Linked DNA regions of Homo sapiens. The protein of the gene in region 2 binds, or shares a complex with, the protein of the main gene of each other region. Each region holds a gene or a part of one and is shown on either strand. Other genes may lie near its edges.

Region 1 (7,024 bases), on a different chromosome or scaffold from region 2:
GCAGCTGAGGTGACTCTTGATGACAAGTCACTGCAGCTGGCCTGCTGTGAAGTTTTGTGTGTGTGTGTGTGTGTGTGTGTGTGTGTGCGTGTCCAGAATGCCTGGTGGCCTGCGGGGGTCTTTACCAAGGGGATGCTGGCTTGACCCAGGCCTCCTTTCCCTAAGAGCAGCAGGAGCTGAGTGAGGCACAGGGATGCCCCCATCCCCTTCTGGCCAGCGAGCTGCTCCTATGATGTCACCCTCTGTCCACCGTGACAAAGACAGACACATCCTGCAGAAGAATCTGGGTCGCAGCAGGTGCCCTGCCTCCAGCAGGAAGCAAAACCAAGGCGGTGGAGGCAGGAGAGCACGGAGACAGACGCCCCGAAGCTCTCTCCCTGTTCCTCCCCAAACGCTAGGCGATGGGAAAGACGGGGACAATGCAGAGTAAATGTGTGCCGTGACACCCAGTATGCGACACAAGCCAAGAATTCTAAGTGGATTCACGAGCCACGCCACCCAGCCTTGGGTCTTCCCTCTTCAGCCGTCAGAGCCAGGATCAGTCTCTGGCTTTGCACCAAGGGCTGCTGTCCCCTCACACGGTGTCTGCGCTCTCGCTGGGCAGGGGTGGCTGCCCCACGTCCCCATTCTGGACAAGCCAACGCCCTCCCACCCAGTGCTGAGAGCTGCATGCGAGTCCCATGAGCACCCTCTGTGCACACACCTTCCAGAACTTAGAGCCCCAACAAAAGCGGGAGTGGGGGCAGCATGGTCCCAACAATCCCCAGGGACGCTCCTCTGTGGCTCCCATGCAAGTGCCCATTTGGGCTGCACGCTTCCCTGACCGGACGCTGAAGGCCGGCCTGCCACGACTGGCCATGCCCCTCAAACGACCGAGATGTCCTCTAGTCCCTCAGCCCGGAGCAGCAGATGAGAGGCTGAAGTTAGCGGGGGAAACAAGAGGAACCCTGTGGCTTCCTGTGCATGGGGGCTCCCTTTGGACATAAGCTGCCACAGTCCCTGCCTGCCCACCTTGGCTGACAAGGCGCTGCATTGGGAGTGCCCCAGACCTAGTTTCAGGTACTTCTGTGAGGAGAGGGGTAGAGAGCCCAGGTGCTCCTCCTCACCACCCCCTCCACACTCCTGGGGAAGTCACTGGCCGCACATACATCTGTGGAATCGGGCCAGGTGGCTTGGGACGTGGCTTTTGTGCTCACACAAAAGAGGTGGCAGTGTTAGCTCAAGCAGTGAGGGGGACTGGGCTGCTTTTGCCTGCGTTCACACAGGGACGGCCCAGGGCACCACCATGCTTTCCCTCCACCCCCAATTACGTGAGGAGCTGACCAGGTGAGCATAACCTCGAAAAGGGGGCGGGGTCAGTAAATGGGGCCGTTTCCTCATCTGCTGGGGTCCAGGGCTGGGGGAGTTTGGGAACGTTTCTGCCAACCTCAGCTAAAACGAAACACAGATGTCACCTTCCAGCCAACCCTGGGCCTACAGGGCCAGGCACAGCTCCACCAGAAGAGACAAAAATTCATCATCCAACATTCACAGAAAACACGCCTGAACCCTGGGTTTGTTCTCCGATTTGTGTTCCTCAAAAGGCGGTAAAACTTGCAAGGTTAGGTGTTTCCAAGCACCTTCGTTGGCCATTGAGAACTGGAGACAGTGAGCCAGCCGTCCCCAGAGGGAGCTCGGGAGCCGAAGGGCCACTCCCGTCTCCAACCACTGCAGGCGGGCACGGGCAGGGCAGCTGCAGACGCCCGGGAAAGGTGTCCATCAGGCCCCCTGGAATACACCACAGATCCTATTTCTTAAAGTGCAACGAGCCCCAAGGGCTGTCTGGCATGGGGCCCTCTGCACCCCACTAGCTCTCGCCTGGGGGGTGCCTAGTGTCAGGCTTCCTGGCCGCAGAGGCCACAGCCCAGCCATGCAAGTTTGAGGTGCTGGGGGGCAGAGGTGGCCAGGAGAAGAGCTTTTCCTGGGGCAGTGGGAAGGCTGGGCTAGGGTGGTGGTGGATGATATGCAGGCACAGCGCCTCTGGGTCAGCGAAGACCAGGAAGGATGCCCCTTCGAGGGCACCAGCAGACCGCCATTCCTTCAAAGTGCCCCACCTCGCCCACATCCCCATGAACACTCCTGCTGGTGGCCTCCATGGCTGGGATGAAACGATTCCACTTCAACACCCAACACACCAACCCCAACCCCAAGTGCACCTGGCACCTTCCAGCTGTCCCCAACCCCCCACCAAGCGCCCACACACACTCACACTCACATGTGCACACACACCCCCACCCCACGCACATGCTCAATTAGTGTTTCTATCGTAATGGACTGTGTTCTGGGGCAGCCCAGGTTCCAGCCTGCACTGCCATCTCCCCAGCTGTCCCCACCAAGGGCTCGAACCCTCTTCTTGGGAAAACGGGGGATCTAGCGACTAGACCTAAGTGGGTGAGTGGGACCCCAGCAGGCCCTCAGGCCACAGCTCCAGGCATCCTGGTTTTGCTGCCACAAAGACGAGGGTCAGCTCCACCTGTGTGCCTCCCTCCCTCCCGGCAGAGGCGGGCACAGAGTGGAATCTTGAGGTCTGTAGTTTTCTTTCTGTGGTTTCTTCCTTTTTAATTACTGGAAGGGTTTTTCCATTTTTTCTCCTAGTGTTCCTTTGTTTGCCAGGGAATGTTTCGGGAAGGCTGTGGAGTGGGACGGTGGGGATGAAGCGGGGAGTCCCACACTCTCTGGGTCCAGGCACAAAGCTATCCTCCGTTGTTCTGATCTGCAGAGCCAGCGCCCTCAGCAGGTACCTAGTGGTGGCAGAGCCGTGGCCTACACGTTCCCAAGGAGGCCGCCAGCCGGGCTGTACCCTTACCTTGGGGGTGTGTGCAGATGGAAGGTGGGAAGAGACAGACCAACAGGAAGTGTTCTCTTCAGGGGTTGCCAGCCCCACCCTGAATCTCAGAGCATCCTCCTCCCCGGCAAAGGCCAGGGCACTGTCCCGACCATGGGCTCTGTACAAGCAGAGGGAGGCACCCGGAGGCTGGTGTGAGCAGCTACGTGGGGTGGTGGTCCAGGGAACAGAGGGAGGGCACTGGAGCCATTGCCTGCCTAGTTCAGTCCTCAAATGGGTCCAAGCCAGCTCAGGTCTGCAGCGCCAGGCCCAGGGTACCTGGCAGCCCAGCCGATGGTACCATTGGCTGGTGCTCCCACTGAGGTCTTGAGAAGGTAATGGGGAGAGCCACTTGCCCCTGCCTCTGTCCCCAGTGGACTTGGTTTTGTTCAAGGCCAAATGCCACCCCGTCAGAGAGAGGACCGGTTCTCCTGTCGCCCCAGGTCTTGGTGGCTCACAGCGTGTGTTCGGCTTGAAGCTGGGAGGGAAGCAGTGGCTGCATTGGGGACTGGGGGGTGGGTGGAGGCGACTGTGGGGGCGACGGCTGACTTGTGACAGGCGTGGAAGTGAGGAAGGGGACGGTGGAAGCCACGGCAGAGGGGGAGCTGGGCCTGGCGCCGGGGGGCTCGGTGATGGGCCGATTGTAGAAGAAGAAGGGGCACTGCTGGATAAAGAGTTCAATGATTGTCTGGTAGGTGCGCGTGGCTGTGAGGGCGTCCATAGTGCTGAAATCAGGTCTCATCAAGGTGGGCCAGAAGCAGATGGAGAGGTTCTCGCTGGTCATGAGATTCACCTTGTTGTTGTGGCTGACCCTGCGGGCGACACCAAACTCAATGGTCAGAACTGTGCAGGGCCCCACCTGGCCCTGGGCGCTCATGGTCTTCAGCACCCAGGCTGAGCCCACCTTTCTTCCCTCAGGTGGAGCAGAAAAGGCCATGCGCAGCTCTCTGTACCCTGCCCTGCCTGGGAGGCTGCGCCCTCAGTGTCCTCTCCCCTCCAGCCCAGTGCCTCTACATGGCCAACCTCGGAAAGGCTGCCTGGAGCCCCGCAAACCCCTGGGGGTGGATGGACCACCTCAGGGACTCACTCTGCAGCCAGCCAAAGCAGTGGCGGTGCTCCGGCTGTGACGAGGGAGGGAGGCTGAGTGTCCTAAGCCAGAGCGCCATCAGAGGCCACTCGGCCAGCAGATCTCCTCCACACACATGGAACTTCAGGGAACAACCATACGGCCTCCCGCCTGCGGCTGTGCTCCATGCCGGAGGCTGGCTGTCTCCTGCAGCACATCTCTCGAGGTGCAGTGTCCCGGTTCTCCCCAGCTGGGAACGTGAATGCTGTGAGAGGACTTTCAGGGACTCTGAGGTGTTTTTGATTCAGGAGAAGATTTCTGGAGCATCAGTACCAACCAGAAGATCTTCTCTCTCTGCCAGCTTTGGGACACAGGCCTACAAGAGGCCCCATGCCCGCTGGAGCTAAGTGCCCTATCTGGTGTTAGGCAGGTTTGAGGCCACGTGGGCTGCCCTCAGACAGGAGCAGGAGGGAGGCCTGAGGATGGGCGAGAGGCAGAGGCTCTGGGCACCGAGACCAGCGGGCACCATGGGAGGCCAGCCAGCACCCCTTCCAGGCCAGGGCCTGAGGCTTCTACTGGCTTGTGGACAGAGCCTTGTTCTGCGACACACTGACCCTGGCTGTCAATTTTCAGGAGGAAAAACCAACCAGAAGGCCCTGCGACTTACTTGTTTAGGTGAGAGATGACATACTTGAAGACTTCGTGGTTTTCCTTTGGAAATTTCTTTAATACCTCCTTAAGGGCATGCAACTTCTGCTCCCGGTCGTTGATTTCTGAGGAGAGAGAAAACCAAAGCCTTGCCTTTCATGGCCGAGGCTGGTGGCCACCCCAGGGCGTGCTCTGTGATGGGCCTTCTCTGAGGACAGCCCAGGGCTTTTGGATGACACTAACCCCACTCTTTCCCCCAAAGCCTGTGCCCAAGGCTGGCACACCTGGCAGTGGCACTGGCCCAGGGGTCTGGCCCACCTCTGTGTCCCAGGCCCCCGCTGAAGGGCGGCACTGTGTGCCTGGGGCTTCCTGGCCCCCACCACCCAAGACAGAACAATCTGGAGACACTCCGCCATAAAGAACACCATTCTTTGCTCATCCGGTTGCCCCTGGAGACAGGCATCCCTACGCAGAAAGCCTGCTTGCTTCCTGACCAGATGGAGACGGGCGGCCGCTGCCACCCACCCACGCCAACAGGCCTTCGAGGGAGGGAGTCAGTCGGTCATGAGACCAAGGCTCTGTCCTTTTCCTAGAGACACAGGGACCGTCCACACATCCCCGTTGGAGGGGCTGATGGAAACAGTGGGGGAATTCTTATGCACTTCACCAAAGGAACTACGCACCCCCTTTTCCCCCAACGCCCACACTTTGCCTATCATGGAATCCTAATGTCCTGGGGGAGGGAAAACAACTGCCTGGAATGCAGCTTGTAACCCGCGCCAGGCCCAGTTCCATGAGTCCCCACAATCGTGTGAGGCAGGAACTCGTCACCCCATTTTGAGGATGAAGTATCTGAGTTTAGAAGTTGCAGAGCTGGGACTGGCTGTGGGGCCTGAGCTGTGGCCACTGGGCTTGCCATCCCCGAGTGGGTGTGGCCCACCTTGACTGGGAAGGGCATCGGGGCTGGTGAGGCACAAACGTCCCAGAGCCCACCTGGAGCCCAGCTGGCTAAGACAGATTTCTCTGTGCAGGGAAAGATGCCCCCATGTTTCCTTCGTGGACTCCAGGGCTCAGAAGAACCACAGGAGGGTCTCACGAAGGAGATGGCAGCGACCTCACAGCTGGCGGCTGTGGGGGTGGTGAAGAGAGGCCTGTTAAAGCGCAGATGATTGCTAATGGGCCCGGGGGCTCGGGCTCCTTTGGGATAGATGATGGTGCCAGACCGTCTCGGCCGGAGACATATGTGTGCCATTCTGCTGATGAATCCGGGAGGGGTGCGGACTCCCTGAACCAAGTATTCTTTTCTTTCTTTTTTCTTTTTTTTTTTGAGACGGAGTCTCACTCTGTCACCCAGGCTGGAGTGCAGTGGTGCGATGTCGGCTCACTGCAAGCTCCGCCTCCTGAGTTCACACCATTCTCCTGCCTCAGCCTCCCAAGTAGCTGGGATTACAGGTGCCCGCCACCACGCCGGCTAATTTTTTCGTATTTTTAGTAGAGACGGGGTTTCACCGTGTTAGCTAGGATGGTCTCGATCTCCTGACCTCGTGATCCACCCACCTGAGCCTCCCAAAGTGCTGGGATTACAGGCGTGAGTCACCGCGCCCAGCCCTGAAGCAAGCATTCTTTGGGAAACCCATAGCTTCCTAGTCACCTTGCAGCAGGTGACGTACCCAGAGGGTCAGAGTTGGGGGAGTTGCACAAGCACCCTGGTGAGAGTGAGACTTGGAAGAGCAGACAGAATGCCAATGACGGGCACGCTGAGCAGGGAGGAAGGTCCTGTGGTGGTCTGGAGTCCAGATCCTGACTCAGATGGCCCTGGTACAAATCCGGCCTCTCGCGTCAACCGTGTCACCTTGGGCAAGTGACACCTTAGGGTGAGTCTCCTTGTCTGTAAAAGGGGCTGTGGACAGTGCCTCCTTCATTCGGTGACACCTGGCAATTAAATGAAGAGTTCACAGCTGGACACAAAATAAGGGCACCTGGGAGCCAGTCTACTCGCAGGAGCCTGTGGGGAAGGGAGGCCGCAGGGCTGGAAGGGACAGAGCTCCAGGAGCTCTCCCGGGCAGCCTAATGAGGAGGAATGAAACCTGGCAAATCTGTGGCCTTGAGAGTGTGACTTGATAAGAGCAGTGTCTTGGTAACATCTGTCTATCAGAAATGACTAAAAAAGTCCTGGGAGCTAGTTATTGGGCTATGAGCAGCTTCATCTCTCTGAATCCAAGGTTTATTTTAAGGGTTCCACCTCAAGGGCACTTTCTTTTTTTCTTTTTTTGAAATGGAGTCTCGCTCTGTTGCCCAGGCTGGAGTGCAGTGGCGTGATCTCAGCTCACTGCAACCTCTGCCTCCCAGGTTTAAGCGATTCTCCTGCCTCAGCCTCCCAAGTAGCTGGGATTACAGGTGCCCACCACCACGCCTGCTAATTTTTGTATTTTTACTAGAGACGGGGT
Region 2 (6,855 bases):
GACATTAAAATATGAACCAAACTCTGACGAAAGACTTGAATCCTTTATTGAGGAATATAAAAAGTGGAATACTACATCCCGTTGGCTGGCATAAATATGACTAACTTTACTTTTCCCCTTTAAGTATCAAAAGATGTAGCCTTAAGTCAAAAATGGATTAGGGTAACAGAATCTTTTCCTAATTAGTTTCAGAACTTTCTAAATGCTCCAAAGAAGCTTATCCAAAAAAAAAAAAAAAAAAAAAAAAAAAAAAAAAAAAAGGCCGGGCACCGTGGCTTACGGCTGTAATCCCACCACTTTGGGAGGCTGAGGCCGGCGGATCACCTGAGGTCAGGAGTTCGACATCAGTTTGGCCATATGGCGAAATTTCGTCTCTATTAAAAATACAAAAATTAGCCAGACATGGTGGCATGCGCCTGTAATCCCAGCTACTAGAGAGGCTGAAGCAGGAGAATCTCTTGAACCCGGGAGGCGGAGGTTGCAGTGAGCCGAGATCACGCCACTGCACTCCAGCCTGGGCAACAAGGCGAGACTCCATCTCTGGGGTGGGGGGAAGGAAAAAAAAAAAAACCTCTGAATTGTCCAGAGTGACTGTCAACATATGAACCAAATCTTTTTTTCTTGATATTCAACAAAGTTGTCAAAATTCTTTTTTTTTTTTTTTTGAGACAGAGTCTCGCTCTGTCACCCAGGCTGGAGTGCAGCGGCACGATCTCGGCTCACTGCAACCTCCGCCTCCTGGGTTCAAGCGATTCTTCTGCCTCAGCCTCCCAAGTAGCTAGGATTATAGGCGCGTGCCACCGCGTCCGGCTTATTTTTGTATTTTTAGTAGAGACAGGGTTTCACCAGGTTGGCCAGGTTGGTCTCGAACTCCTGACCTCAGGTGATCCGCCCACCTCAGCCTCTCAAAGTGCTGGGATTACAGGTGTGAGCCACTGCGCCCGGCCGGTTGTTAAAATTCTAAGGGTCAATTAAGGGTTATATGAGAAATCTATAACAAGTTTTGCCTAATAACACTTCCCATCTCAACATTTTCATCAAGGTCCACCTTTAAGAATAAACACCTAAGTTCAATTAAGACAAGTGAGGAGGAGGTATTAACTTACATTTTAAAAAAGTCATTGTCCTGTATATTTTACAGACTGTAAAACTTAATTTTTAAATAGAATACTATACTGGCCACCAACAAAAAATGTTTAAGGGAAGCTCTATTGATTTTGTTTTGCCTCACTGTTGTACTTCCAAAGTCTCCACTATAAAAGCAGTGCGTTAATATTAAGTGGCAAGCCTATGGAAGAAGATACATTGTTGGAATATAGGCTCTTAATCACACCTATAATACACAGGATTCCTTTCCTTTCTCTCTGACCCAAGTTCTCATTAAGTGACCCAAAGACTCTTCTGCATCACTATGCTTTCTCTAATCAGAAGCTGGGCTGTGCACTGAAATAAAAACATTCTAACCAATACATTTTTCAAATTATTACTATAGTACTCGTTTAAACACCTGTATTCAAAGCTTCTCACTAATCATCTAGCTTTATCAAGTAACACACACAAGTTAATATACACTATGACTGCCTTGGTAGCCGCAGTTTGACTAAATTCTGGGACACCACCTCAACTTGGAAGGGACAGAACTATATCCGGTTCTCATTAGATACACATTTTCTCATGCTTTCCATCTTAAAGACTTTACACTTTCCCAGAGGAGCAATAAATGTAGGAAGACGCCAGGTAGTATGCCTGTAAGGAAGATAAGTGATCAGATTAAATTCCTACCCAAGAAACCTGAAACTTCAAAAACTTTTCCTAACAAACCACAGATGAAAAGGACAAAGTATGATTTACCCCTTCATTTCCACTTCTTTTCTGGAGCCAGCTTCCCAAATTCCTGAACAGCAGTCTTAACTTACTGGTTAGTTGGAGGAGCGGTCAACGGTATGGCCACCTCTTCCTCCTCGTATTCTGGTCCATCCAGAGAGTCACCTTCGTCCACTGTCCCGAGGCCCGCCCCCAAAGGGGGCAGGTAAGGGGGAGGGGGCAGAGGGGGAAAACCGCCGCCTGGCCCGAGAGTCTCAGCAAGCAACGAAGTGGGCAGTTTGGTGAGAGCCATGTCTCCACTAGGTCCAGCAACAGCAGCACCGGCCACGCCAGCAGCAGCACCAGCTACGCCAGCAGCAGTACCTCCCCCTGTCAGTCCAGCTCCCCCCAGTGCCCCTGCCACAGACCCGGCTCCTAGGAACTCTGACCCCAAAGCGGCTCCGCCACCCAGAGTTCCAGCCACTCCGGTCTCCACCAGCCCAGGATAGGGGGCGGCTGCCACAGGCAGGGCCGCGGGTATCTTCACCCGACACACTGCGGGATAGGCACTGGAGCCCGCTGCCGCGCCGCCTCCTCCAGCTCCGGCTGTTACCGGGCCGCCCTCCTCACTGCCGGCCTCGGCCGCCATCATGTTGAAGCCCGCTCTACTCTGCCCTACCCTGCCCGCCCGGGAGCCCCAGGGGCCACCAGGCCCGGGCTCCGAGCAGCCCCACCCAGACGCGTCTCCCCTTCAGCTCCCCAGGCTGAGGAAACAACAACAAAAGGAGAGAGCCCGCCGCCGCGCCCCCTCCTAGGGCCACAGCCCAGGCTCCCCAGCTGCCTGGGTTACGGGAAGCCAAGTGGGCAAAAAACCCAACGCCTGCACAAACGCCACCCAAACCTCACCGCACACACCCACACTCACGCACACAAACACATGTACAGAAGCGAAAACTTCCTCGCTGCACTAAAGAGGAAAGGAAGCACAGGGAAAGAGGCTGAGGCTGCTACCGCTCCTTCAGCCGCCACCACCGCTTCTTCACCACCCCAGTTCCGGCCACCCACACCGCAGCCACCGCCGGTGCCGCTGCTGAGGCTGGGGCCACTGCAGCCGCTTCATCCTCCACCAGGCAGATGAGAGGGGTGGGGGGGCAAGAGAAAGGGGGGCGGGGTAACGAGGAAATCGACTGAACTGCTCACTACCTGGAGCTCTCAGTGAGTGAAACGGGAGAGAGAGAAAGGAAGGCGGGGCAGGGGAGGAGGGACGGAGGGAAGGAAGGGCGGAGAAGGGAGAGGGCAGCTTGTGCGCAGGCGCGTTCCCGGAGCGGGGGCGGGGGGCCGGGCCGGGAGGAAAAGGAAGAGTCCAGAGGGAAGGAAGCGGCGGGGACGCGCGGTGCGTGGTCGCGCTTGCTGTCCTCCTCCGGTTCCAAGCGTGTGGCGGCGCGGCCGCATCTCCTGTTGGCGTGGCCGGCGGCGCGCGCCTGTCTCCCGGGGCTTTGTTTGATGGGCGGGAGAAGAGGGAAGGGTACCTGAGCACGCGGGTGCTTGGCGCTGTTAAAGCCGGAGAGACCAGAGGGGGACCAGGAGGCGGTGGAGAGGAAGGAGGGGGAAAGGGAAAGGAAAATGCCCAGAAACTAGTTCCGTACTTCCTGACCAGTGGAAAAAACAGCCTTAACCAGCAGCGCAGAAACCGGGCAGGGGTCAGGTAGCTTTGAAGATCGGGGCAGTACTATTAATGTTTTCTTTTTCGTTGCATGCTATAAATCACTATGACTATCTCACACACACACAGTTAAAATAGATTCTGAAACTCCAAAACGAAATAAAGGGCACCATATGAGAAGGGTGAAGAATTTGAGTAGAAATAGTGGTTATGAAGTAAGATTTCTACCAGTATTTGCATACGTTTTTCTTTATCAACTGTCTCATATACTTACCTATGCCATTATAAGTCTGTTGGATACTGATGAAGAGGAGGAGGTGCCACAGAAAACACTAATCAATGCACTTTTGTCCTGGTTTGTGTGCAAAAGACTGCAGGACGTGATCCACAATGCAAGCACCTTCAACAAGTCAAATGTCAAGAATGTCCCAGAATGCTAGTTATAATTATATATCGTTTCAAAAGTAGCAATAAACTGAAAACTCATTTTTAATACAATTAAGGAGAAGGGTGTTATTTTGTCTTTTACACTAAAATGTATACAAACTATGCATTCATGTAGAGGGAGCTTCCCATGGTTTGAAATTAACAATATTGTTAAATTCTCCCAGGAGTGATCCCACATTAAATACCATTGGATATTGATCTTTGAGATCAATATTTTCTGTGCTAAGGATGATCAAACTAACACTCAGGATGGCAAGTGGCTGTGATAGAAACCCAGGAAAAAGAGAAAAGACCACTAAAAGACGTGACAAGATACAGGCAATGCATTGCCTTTGTAAGTTTGCACAGGCCTATTTACCTAGTCAATGACAACAATCCAACTTGATTAGGAGTAGTCCTGGGGCCTCCATTACGCATATCTCTTAGCAGTGTGCTACCTGGGAGAAGGAAGATGGACCAGTCACAGGAGCTAGAGTTCTCAAAGTGAATTCAGGCCGCAACATCCTAGGAATTCAGAAATGCCACCTCAGACCTTCTGAATCAGAAAATATGCAGCGATCCATTTTAACAAACCCTCCAAGTGATTGTTTGCACACTTAAGTTTGAGAACCACTATATTAATGTATAGTATACTAATCAAGAAGGAGGTATGCAATACCTAAAAACGGTTCTGAAAGAAATAATAAATGTCATTCATTAGGTGGGTAGGTAAAATAGGCGGGTTTTGAGTTGCCAAGCTCTGTGCTGTTCTAGAAATGAGAATGAAGTAGTTCCATAATACTTAATAATGAAGTACTACTTATGGTGGCCTCCCTGAGAACAGTTTTCTTTTAAACTTAGACCCTCAGTTAGACAAGACTATCAAAATACCTACTCTACTTACTGTCTGCTGTGTGAACACCAAGTGCAACAATCCCAACAAATCTTAATATAGCCTGTGCTTGAAAACCTCCAGTGTGTTAGCATCCCAATCCTCCAACATTCCTGTCCCAGTCACCACTGTCAGCCCTTGAATGCAGGACATTGAACTGGCAGGTTATCACCGGCTCTTGGTTATCACTGATTTCTAAATGTTCACACACCCTCTGTATGTTGCCTGGGAGTCCAGGTGAGGCTCACTACTCTTACTGCAGAATTACCTCCTCCTTTTTGACAATTCTTTAGCACTTGTAAAGGTCAATATTTAATGCAGTCTAACACCTATCAAATGCTCAATTAAATGTTTTCTAGACTTTTAGGTGTATGTACCTACAAAACTGTACTGCAAATACAACCTGTGGTCTATTCTACTGCCTAGCCCAGTCCTAGGCAACCTCAGTATGCTACTTTGAACAGATCTTCATCCTTTTAACAAATACCAAATTTGATCAGCTCCCATCTTTGGAAATCAATTTCTTAACCAGTAGGAAATAACTACTATGTCTATTTGTAAATCAGCCTTATACCAATATCTTACCTAGTTTTTGTTTAGCCTTAGAGTTAGCCCTGTTCTTTTCCTCCAAAGAAATTGCCACATATTTTTATGAGGTATTTTCAGATATTTAATATATTCCTATTATTGGATAGATCTAGGCTCTAATCTTTACTATTGCTTGTGTACTTTCTGAATCTCAAATACGTTGTCTATCTTTATTTTCATTTTTTCCAAAAGGATTTAATGTTTCTACTTAATTTTTGTCCATTGCCTTTCTTTTCTACCCACCTTAACTTTCTGCCCAGTTAACAAAGGGAAGTAAACTATCTTAATTAAATTCACAGATATTAAACAGGGAGGTATTGAAAAACAGAATAGTACACAAAAGAAAGAAAATTCAAAATATATTTTACCTTTAGTAAAATAAGCTATTATATCTGTGATTTTAGAAAAGTTACTCTGGATCTTGAAACATAGTATTTAATGAAGACTAAATAATAAAAAGTGCTGGACAAAAACTTGTGTATGAAAAGAAACTGAAAATTTAAGAAATGAAGTTGGCTCATTCTGGTTTCATTGGCAACTGAAATATGAATGTGGCCGGGTGCGGTGGCTCACGCCTGTAATCCTAGCACTTTGGAAGGCCGAGGCGGGCAGATCACAAGGTCAGGAGATCGAGACAATCCTGGCTAACACTCCAGCCTGGGTGACAGAGCAAGACTCTGTCTCAAAAAAAAAAAAAAGAAAAAGAAATATGAATGTACTACGTTCCAAAATATTTTATAGTTTTGATATCTTGAGTATGTGGAAAGGTAATTCTAACTCAGTAACATAACTGTAATTTTAGAGGACCTTAGAGCATAGGTAAGAATAGTTTCTGATGGGAGGACTAACCAAGAAGTAATAAAGAGCTTACTGCTGTGTTTGAAGAATGCCAAATTGTGTTCCATGCCCTAGTACATATTGAGTTACACAAATAGCCTTCCAAATTTACCTAAATAGTATCAAAAGGTTTCATTGACCCAATAATTTTGAAAGAAAGCCTTTACTTCTAACCCTAATGTCCCCACTGCATTTATTGACTTTATCTTAAAACCCTCCAGAGCACAAATTTTTTTATTACAAAGATCTTATGAGAAAATAACATCGAGGAGATACAGGTTAAAGGAAATACTTTGATGAAAAGGCAAATAACTCTGCAGAGATTACAATATGTGGTATAATAACTAAGATTTATGAAAATTATAAATACCATAGAGAAATTGAAGAACTGTGTGATGATCTCTGAGGCTGTAAAATAAATTACAAGGTAAATTATCCAGAGCTCTCTCAAAACATTCAAACCAATATATGAGTAAAGAAGATTAGAACAGTTAGATCTAAATATCTCTTAAAATATAAAATAATAGAAAAATATATTTTTTTTTTTTACTTTATTCCTATTTTGTCTTTATATTGCAGATACTTCATTATTTTTTGTCAGAACCTTTCCTCCTTCATGATTTCTAGTCTCTTTTTCTTTACCTAT

The links.
Region 1: the proteins of RASA1 (region 2) and ARHGAP35 are in contact, whole or in part, in a crystal structure (PDB 8DGQ), measured with the Homo sapiens proteins. Residues at the interface, in NP_002881.1 of Homo sapiens: Arg188, Arg207, Ser209, Arg211, Val217, Asn228, His229, Phe230, Arg231, Ile241, Gly242, Tyr256, Leu262, Leu263, Lys264, Lys358, Ser379, Asp380, Asn381, Ser387, Gln397, Arg398, Phe399, Lys400, Met411, Gly412, Gly413, Arg414, His425, Tyr426; in NP_004482.4 of Homo sapiens: Ser1085, Asp1086, Tyr1087, Ala1088, Glu1089, Pro1090, Met1091, Asp1092, Ala1093, Val1094, Val1095, Arg1098, Glu1100, Asn1103, Ile1104, Tyr1105, Ser1106, Val1107, Pro1108, His1109.

The regions. Positions count from the first base shown.
Region 1 is NC_000019.10:46,996,982-47,004,005, reverse strand, and holds part of ARHGAP35 (rho GTPase-activating protein 35), read right to left. Parts: intron 6,510-7,024; exon of another isoform or gene 6,248-6,509; intron 4,703-6,247; coding exon 4,597-4,702; intron 4,180-4,596; coding exon of another isoform or gene 4,074-4,179; exon of another isoform or gene 3,933-4,073; intron 3,676-3,932; coding exon 3,318-3,675; 3' UTR 1-3,317.
Region 2 is NC_000005.10:87,264,052-87,270,906, reverse strand, and holds the start of RASA1 (ras GTPase-activating protein 1), read right to left. Parts: upstream 3,025-6,855; 5' UTR 2,456-3,024; coding exon 1,917-2,455; exon of another isoform or gene 1,860-1,916; coding exon of another isoform or gene 1,852-1,859; intron 1-1,851. UniProt on the Homo sapiens protein: Inhibitory regulator of the Ras-cyclic AMP pathway. Stimulates the GTPase of normal but not oncogenic Ras p21; this stimulation may be further increased in the presence of NCK1.